Regions from separate parts of the Homo sapiens genome. Here region 1 is linked to region 2. A link means that fine-mapping ties the variant in region 2 to the expression of a gene that starts in the linked region. Tissue or cell type: thyroid. Region 2 holds a variant in brackets; the other region holds the start of a gene. All regions are shown on one strand. Distances are from middle to middle.

Region 1 (4,402 bases), 150 kb after region 2:
ACTGGAAATGTGGATTGTCCAGATTGGAATGTACTAATTGTAAAATACGCACTGGATTGCACAGGCTTGGGGCAGTACAAACAAAAGAATGAAGATATCTCATTAATAGTTTTTATGATTATTACACATTAAAATGATCATATCTTGGATATATTGAGTTAAAATATATTATTAAATTAATTTTACCTCTTTATTGTTACTTTTCTAAAAGCAGCTACTAGAAAATTTTAAATTATACATGTAACTGCTCATAGAAGGTTGGTATCTGGGTTCATTCATTAGTGGACATTCATAAACATAGTAATTTTCTTTAATTTCATGGATTCGTTGAACTAAAGATCCCATAGGTCACCGCCTTCCCTGTCCCTCCTCTACCACCAAAAATTAATGAGAACAAATGGGAAGAATTTACTCTGCTTTTCAAGGTACTCTGATACAGATTTTTATCTACTGTCATAAGTATACCTAGAACAAAAGCACTGTTGACTCAAGTAGTTTCACTAATGAAAAGGAAGCAGCAGAATGACTAATGTAAATTGGAGGAGACTCTTTTATTTGGAATGCTTTGGTTCTTCCACTGTGGAACAGGTGTGGCTGCTGTTGAAACAGCAGAGTCATACTAGGCATATCTGACATGTGAGGAACCGGAGCATTGCTCAGGGGCCCCTGCCTTCCAATGAATGGATGTAGGATCCATCATACATCAGATTGCTCCTTTCCAATACAAACTCTGATGCAGAAATGCACTTGGTGTATTTGCTTTTTCTTACTTTCTGGTTTAGGGCAGAAATAATATTTTGGCTTAGAGACTTTTGTCCTGAACTATGACATAATAGGATGAGAATATCGTGTCAAAAATAGCCTTACAAGGTCCTTTTTGGCATTAAGACTTCTGGAGTGAGTTTGCAGTGGATTATTGAGAATAATTCTGTTCATTAGCAGCTAGCCATCTTTGATGAGTGCTGACTTCTCTCCTTTCAGCACAGAGCAGGAAATGCCTGCCTCCCATGACTCTGGGTTGGAGTGAAGGGGAATGCATACCAGCCACCCTCTTGCAGAGGTGGGGCAGGTGCTGGCACAGAGCCTCAGGTTAGGCCGAGGGGATGCAATCTCAGATCAGCAGCCAGCAGTGTTTGTAAACAACAGGAGGGAGATTGTGCTGGTGATGTCCAACTCACACCAATGAAGATCAACCGGTTTGTGCTTTGGGCAGCAGGCTGCAGATGGACAGTGCCTCCTGAGGGCATCGCCATGTTTTAGGGATCCATGTTGCAGGATACCTGTCTGCAAGAGAGAGTCAAGGAGGGCTTTTTAAGCCCCTGGGGTTCAGGCCTGGCATCTGGGTGTTAAGTAGAGTGAATCTCCTGAAGTCCAAACTAACATATGACATTTTAAAATGAGGAAAACAAATGGCTCTGAAAAGGTCTATAGGATTATAGGTAAGTGGTTAATACGGAAGATGTTATAAAGGTCTCAGGAGGAGATGGGGTGATCCAGGGTTGGTTGAAGTCGTTGAAATGGAATTACCCTGTCTTTTACCTGTCTGTGGGAAAAAAAAAAAAAGAGGAAAATGACATCTCCCAAAGATGCTTGGAGATTTGATTGATGTTTGTAAAGTGCTTTGATATCTTTCATAGAGTGTTCAATAAGAGCAAAATATGTCATCAGAACTTAGTCTAAAGCAAACTAGTCCCAAACCGTCTTGAGTAGATACTAAGCGGTTTTGTGTCTTTGTTATAAGTTGTACTTATATTTTCGAGAGAAAGTTTTTCATGTTCTGATTTTCTTTTAAGTGTCAGCTGTATGTTTGGGGTCTTTACCTGTTAACTTGAGTTCCAACATGCTTTGTAGATGGTCAGTCACCTACAGAGGACAATTTTTCTAGCCAAGGAGTTAAATCCACCTTAAAATGCTTCTTGCCAAGGACAATGCCTTTGCAAATATTTGAGATGTTTATTCTCAGTTGTGATTTATTACTGAATCTGTGTCTTCATAGCGACTCCTTGGGAGGTGCAGGAGGAGGCAGAGCCAGAAAGCAAGTCCCTGCAATCAGTTCATTATAGAGAAAGAAAAAGCTTTTATTTCAGGATTCTGGTGGATAGACTTACTGATATGTATATTCTGTGTCTATTTAATTTCACGTAGTGCTGCATCTAATCACGCTGTTTAAATAATCGGACAGAATGTCCTTTTGCTTTGCTTTTGCTTGTGAAGAGCACACAGCACTGCCACCTTGTTGCCAAAGTTTGGTCTGATTTGAATGTGCTTAAAAATCAAGTGAATGCCTGTTGGGAAAAAGCTTACTCCTTCTCTTTGTCAGTACTTGCAAAAACAACTTAAAAGAAGTTAGTATTATTGGACTGAATTCAGTAATTAGCATAATCATGATGCTATGTATTGTTCACCAGGGCACGCCCCTTGGCCGCATTTCCCATTAAGAGGACACCGATGTTGTCCTAGTGAATAAATCCCGGCACACATGATGCAAATCAGCGTGTTCCTGCCTGCTGCTTGGCTGCAGTTAATTTTAGCCGGGGTTAGTTCTATGAGTTGTAAAAGTAGAAGTTAGCAAGCTGAAATGTGACTTCTCGGCCTAATGTGGTAGGATATCTATTTTAGACTTCAGATTGTGTTTGTGATCAGGAGAGCAGTCTTCTGAAGAATTGTGGCTCAGTTTTCTTGGAAACTACTTGTAAGTACTGGGTGGAATTTTAAGACTTCTCTTTGTTCTTTTCTCCTTAAATCTTCCTAATGTTACCGTCATAGTAATGTTTATCTCTTGGGAAAACTGGAAGCTTTCAGGTTGGTACGTTAGAGAAAGCTAAGAGAGGTGGCAAAAGGTTTTTCTTTAAATGTCTCCTACTGCAATAAATCTGCCTTATTCAATTTGCCCAAGAAAAAGTTTTCGATTCTTACTTATTTTTGCAAAAGCAATCTGTAGATTATTATTTTATGTTAAAATATTTGATTAATGGATATGGTTTCTGTAAATACAGAAACATTGTATTGTGTCATTGAGCTTTGTTTTCTACTATGGTAACCTAATTCTTGAGAAAAAAATGTTGAAAGTTAATTCCTGTTATACTCTGTGCTACAAGTTTATTTTGTAGAAATAATGGAGTGTCAAATGTAATTTTCTTGAATGTATAGATGGACAGTTTTTTATCCTTTTAAGGGGGATTTTGTGCTTAAAAAATAAACCCATATATGCCTAAAGAGAAGCACTTTAAAAAATTAATTTAGGAAGAAGGTTTTAGAGAATAATTTAAAGCATCCTCTTTTAGACTGAGTTAGTTATCAAAAGTAACCAAAGGCCATGGGATTCTGTAACCTTAACTGCAGTTCATCTAACACATTATTACCAACTTAAATTTGTACTGAAGAAAACAAAAGATTTTGATATTGAATATTTTAAATTAAATTTGAATCATCTTGCTTATTTAGAAGTGTGTTTTCAATGTGGACTGACCTCAAGCCAAACAGTTTGCTTACAGCAGAGAACCAGGCAGGAATTTCTTTATCAATTAGCAAGTAAATGTATCAGCTTTAGGAATATTGTTATTAATAAAACAGTTCTCCTAGGCGATAGGATAGGTGCTCACCAGCTATCTATGCCTGTCATCTCTAGAGCAAGGAAGGAGGCAGGTCCACAGTTAGTATTGTGAAAGCCATTTTCCCATTTTGAAAAGATTTAGTTAAAGACTTCTTTGTTATTATGTATTGTCTGATTTTAAATGCAAATGACATAAAGTGTCAACAATGAAAGGAAATACTTCAGTGTTCCATTTAGTAGGAAAAGAGTGTAAGAAAGGAAAGTAGTACTGAGTTCTTGGGCTATTTTTAGAAAGAAACTTACTTCATACTTAGTTTTTATTGAGCTGAAGAGAAATTTGCTGCCCAGATGAATTATAATGATAACAGAAGCCTCTAATGTCATCTTCAGCAGTAAAAGGGGTTTTGCTCCGGTAATCCTTCATAATATATATTTTTATCCAAAAAATTCTGACTTATTGCTATTACTTCTTACTTCTAATTGTTAATAAGGCACCATCAGAATCTCAGTGGAGCATTTTTAAAGGTACACTGTAGTTGGGTATTAGTTTTCACACCAGTATTCACTTGACCTATTGTAGTTCTTAGTCCTGCAAAAGAGAAAAGCTGATTCGAATTTATCCATTGTTTAATTTCACAGACGTTTCTGTAGGTTTTTCTACTACTAGGAAGCATGTGCTTTATGATGAGTTGCTAAAATGCGCATAAACACTTGAGGAGTGTTCGTTTTAATGATTTACGTGCTGTGAGAGAGTGGCAGCGGTGAGTGAGAGCGGAGAAGGTTTTCATTATATAAGTGTTAGTGCCGGAATTCCTCGTGTTTGCCGGTGCTGCGATTCTCTTCGCTGCT
Region 2 (4,402 bases):
AACAAATCTATGATGAACAAAATGTTTCTGATATTTCCTTTTGCCTCAGGATCCAATGTGGTTAGCACAGAGCTTTTACGGATCCTGTCATTATTTAAAATTGTATTTTTTATCATTTTTTTGCATTAATTTTTATTTTTAAAATTACTGCATTGGCTGGGCGCAGTGGCTCACACCTGCAATCCTAGCACTTTGGGAGGCAGGCAGATCGCCCAAGGTCAGGAGTTTGAGAGCAGCCTGGCCAACATGGTGAAACCCCATCTCTACTAAAAATACAAAAATTAGCTGGGCGTGGTGGCAGGTGCCTGTAATCTCAGCTACTTGGGAGGCTGAAGCAGGATAATTGCTTGAACCTGGGAGGTGGAGGTTGCAGTGAGCCAAGATCATGCCACTGTACTCCAGCTTGGGTGACAGAGCGAGATTCTGTCTCAAAAAAAAAAAAATACTGCATTAAAATATTTGTCTTCAGTTGCATTCACTATATGCATACACACACACACATCACACATTACAAATGAATACAGGTTTAAAAACTGGCCATCTACAGTCTAGTTAACAGTAATGTCCTGATGTCAATTTCCTGATTTTGATTTTGTACTATAAGATGTCATCATTGGGGGAAGTTGGGTATACCAATGTTGCAATTTCCTGTAAGTCTATAATTATTTCAAAATTAAAATTTTTGCAGGAGGGTGTCACACACCTGTAGTCCCAACTGATCAGGAGGCTGAGGCAGAAGGATCCCTTGAGCCCAAAAGGTCGAGGCTGCAGTGAACCAAGATTGCACCACTGCACTTCAGCTTGGGTGACCCAGTCTCTTTTTAAAAATTGAAAATATATTTATTTTATAAATTCCTGAATCTGGGGGCACCCAGGTCAATTTGAGCCCATAGTGGGCATCTTACTTTCCTCTGCTAGTCCTGGCCCTGCGTGTTATGCTCTCAAACAGTGGGGAACATCAGCCAAGACTCTCACCTCGCTCAGCAATGCACAGACACTTAGTTACCCTTGAGCCATCCATAAACCCATCTGGCTGCCCCAGACCTCCTGCTAATTCTGCCCCCAGGAACACGCCTTCCCTGCAAACCGGCCCTTCCCATTTCCGTAAACACCCTGTGTGCAATGTTCAAGCATGAGCAACAATGGGATAAGCTTTTCTTTTCTTCTTCTTTGTTCTTTGACAAGTTCAGTTCAGTTTCAGTGAAAACTACTCAGGGTGTAAACAAATAATGTCACATCTTAAATTTTAGTTATGAGTCAGGGCCTATGGTTTTGACAAGCACCCAGGTGATTCCAGTGTGGAAGCTGAAGAGCCACCCCTTGAGCCAGTTCTTGACTTTGTGCTCACGTTAGAATCTTCTAGGGCAGCATCACCTGGGAACTCATTAGAAATGCAGATTCTTGACTGCGCCCTGAACCTGCTGAATCAGAAACTCTGGGAGTGTGCCCAGCCATCCGTGCTTGCAAAGCCCTCCAGGCAATTCCGATGCTTGCTGAGGTCTGAGGACCACTGATGTAGAACTTTAAAAAAATGGGATGCTTGGATCCACGTCCAGAGATGCCAGTCTCATTGGCTGAGTTACAGTCCTGCTGTCCCACATAAAGTTTCTTGGGTCATTCTACCAATCTCTGGGGTGAGAGTCGCTGCTCCACTGTGTCTTGGTGACCAGCTGAGTCTCTCTTCCTGGTTCTCCAGCATGACTCCTAACTAGTGCTTATGTTTCTTGCAGAGAAACCAAAGATCTGCCCTTAACAACAGTCCAATGAGTTAAGAGGAAATAAAGTGCTTTCAAGAAAATGCCTTTTTAAGCA[C/T]CCATGGCATCCAGGAGGCCCCTATGCTGTGTATGGTTTGATTTGTGTGAATTTTAGTTTGCCTATTCTTCTCTTCTCTTTGTGAACTCTGGCAGGATGAGAACAACTTCACAAATGTGTAAGGAAAGTTGTTCTCAAGCGGTCTGGGACGGAGTCTTTTTGCTTGATATACTTCAAATCTCCTTCTGGGAATATCATTTATTCCTGATAAAATGCTTAAGAAATTTTCTCACTAGATTTAGAAAGATGTGTCCTGAGAAAGCAGTCACCTACTAGCTGTCAGTCACACACGGAGGTTCTGGAAACCAAACATGCTGACCTTTCTGTATCTGGCCTCATACTAATTATCTTAACATTTTATTCCTGGACACAGTAGTGTGCGCCTGTAGTCCCGGCTACACGGGAAGCAGAGGCCAGGAGTTTGATAGCTTGAGGACAGGAATTCAAGGTTGTAGTGTGTTATGATCTGCCTGTGAATACCCACTACACTCCAGCATGGGCAATCACAGTGAGATCCCATTTCTTTTTTTTTAAAAAAATTCTTATCCAATAATATAACCCTAACACATGTGAATTATGACTGCCAGACAGCTTCTCTCATAGCAATATTATAATAAAATTTTATATGGGACTACAGGTGCACACCACCACACCCAGCTAATTTTTTGTATTTTTTATAGAGATGAGTTTTTGCCGTGTTGCCCAAGCTGGTCTCAAACTCCTAGACTCAAGCCATCTGCCTGCCTCAAGCCTCCCAAAGTGTTGGGATTACAGGCATAAGCCACCACGCCTGGCCTCAAAAAGTTCTCAATGCAAGTTATATAAACATTGTATTTACTAAAAATAGTTCTATGCAATGCAAACAGCAGAGACACATAAATAGCAGTAAGTGATCACCCCCACTGAATTCCACTTCCCAATGGGGGGTGACTGATTCCATGAGGTGTGTGTCTTACCACCTGTATTCATCCACTCATTCATTCATTCATCCACAATTCATTTGTCCAATATTGAATCAATCACCTATACTGTTCCAAGCTGAGTGAAGGGGATATAGATGTGCATGAGATAAACACCATTTTTAAACTCATGGATCTTACATAAATGTAAATACAAACTCTCATACTTCAGTAATAGTTGAACTATTACTGAAAGAAACTAATTTTTAGCTCAGCTTTCTTTTCCTGCCATGGATTTACCCAAGAAGATTAAAAACATCTTTCCCTGTCCCCATGGAGAGCAGGAATGAGCTGTGCTGTCCTCTCCCGGCTCCCACCCTTTCCACTCCGCTCCTGGCCCCTTGCCCCACCTTGCCAGGGCTGCAGTTTCAGGCCCACTGGGCGATTAAGGTGGATTGCCCTGGACAAGGATCAGAGGAGATAAAAGTGGCTTGGTTGGGGGAGGGAGATGGAGAGGGTGGAAAGTGAAGAAGTGAGACTCCTCACCCCCAGGAGAGATAAAGAAGGGGCGGTGTTGTGAACCACTGGAGGTGAGAGTGACCAAGCCCATTGCACACAGCACACCATGGGGGACACAATTTCAAGGTTGCCTAAGGAGGTGGCATAGTAGGGGGTCTGGTTCCCAGTCTCCATGCCACAGCCTGGATCAGAGCAGAACTTTGGAAGGGACAGCTGGAGGTTGAGCAGTGCACGTCTAGTTGTGGCCAGGGTAGACTCAAGGCAGAGTCACTTCCTCATGTCCTCTGGACTAATAACACCCTAGGACTCCTGCACAGCCGAGGCAATGGAAACGCACTGAGCATTCCCTGCTTTGGGCAGTGCCGGCTGACAGAGGGGTGTTATTTGATTTAGGAAAATAAAACATGACATTTCCTGCATCCAGGTGTTGCAAAGCAAATGTATGCCTACTGGAGACACACGCACACATGCACACACACACACATCACACACATCACATGCACAGTCATAAAGCTCCTGGTTTTGTTGATCAGCTCCTAATTGCATTATCATTCTTTTTACAGCACAGAGACTAAAACTGGACCAGAAGCCTTCTTTTGCCAACAATAGGGCTTGTGGCGGCTTTAGTTGAAAATGTGCACTCTCAGTAAGCATATTGAAGCAGTTTACTTGGCTGGGTGTGGTGGCTCACACCTGTAATCCCAGAACTTTGGGAGGCCGAGGCAGGTGGATCACCTGAGGTCAGGAGTTCAAGACTGGCCTGGCCAACTTGGTGAAGCCCCATCTTTACTAAAAATACAAAAAATCAGCTGGGCGTGGTGGCATGCACCTGTAATCCCAGCTACTCAGGAAGCTGAGGCAGGAGAATTGCTTGAACCCGGGAGGCAGAGGTGCAGTGAGCCAAGATGGCACCACTGCACTCCAGCCTGGGCAACAAGAGAGAAAGTCCATCTCAAAAACAAACAAACAAACAAAAATGTTGAAGCAGTTTACTGTAAAACGGATCCTGTGTCCTTTAAAAGCCTGAACTGTCTGGGCGATATTTATGGCTGCATGACACAGTTTGGTGTGATTAAATGTGTTCCTGAAGATGTAATTTTCATAGAGCAGTCCCAGGGTCCCTTTGGGGGTCAAAAGATCATTAGAGGGTGGAGGTGGAGTGGGGCATCCCT

Direction of the effects. Alleles are on the strand shown, and positions count from the first base shown. SD is a standard deviation of normalised expression in the study named.
In carriers of allele C in region 2, the expression in thyroid of the gene that starts at base 2,492 in region 1 tends to be higher than with T alone (small effect, 0.23 SD a copy in GTEx).

What was found. PIP is the estimated chance that this variant, and not a neighbour inherited with it, causes the effect. A credible set is the group of variants that fine-mapping cannot tell apart.
Region 1: SLC20A2 starts here. The variant in region 2 is the best candidate, but not a certain one, in a credible set for the expression of SLC20A2 in thyroid (GTEx, PIP 0.87).

What each region holds. Positions count from the first base shown.
Region 1 is chr8:42,499,321-42,503,722 of GRCh38, reverse strand. SLC20A2 (solute carrier family 20 member 2) reads left to right here and starts at 2,492. Exons shown (of 11, transcript NM_001257180.2): 1 at 2,492-2,692. RefSeq lists an enhancer at 386-1,585.
Region 2 is chr8:42,651,865-42,656,266 of GRCh38, reverse strand. No RefSeq gene overlaps it. Among named protein-coding and RNA genes, the nearest start is that of CHRNB3, 43 kb to the left of the region's middle. The variant C/T (reference allele first, on the strand shown) is at 1,813.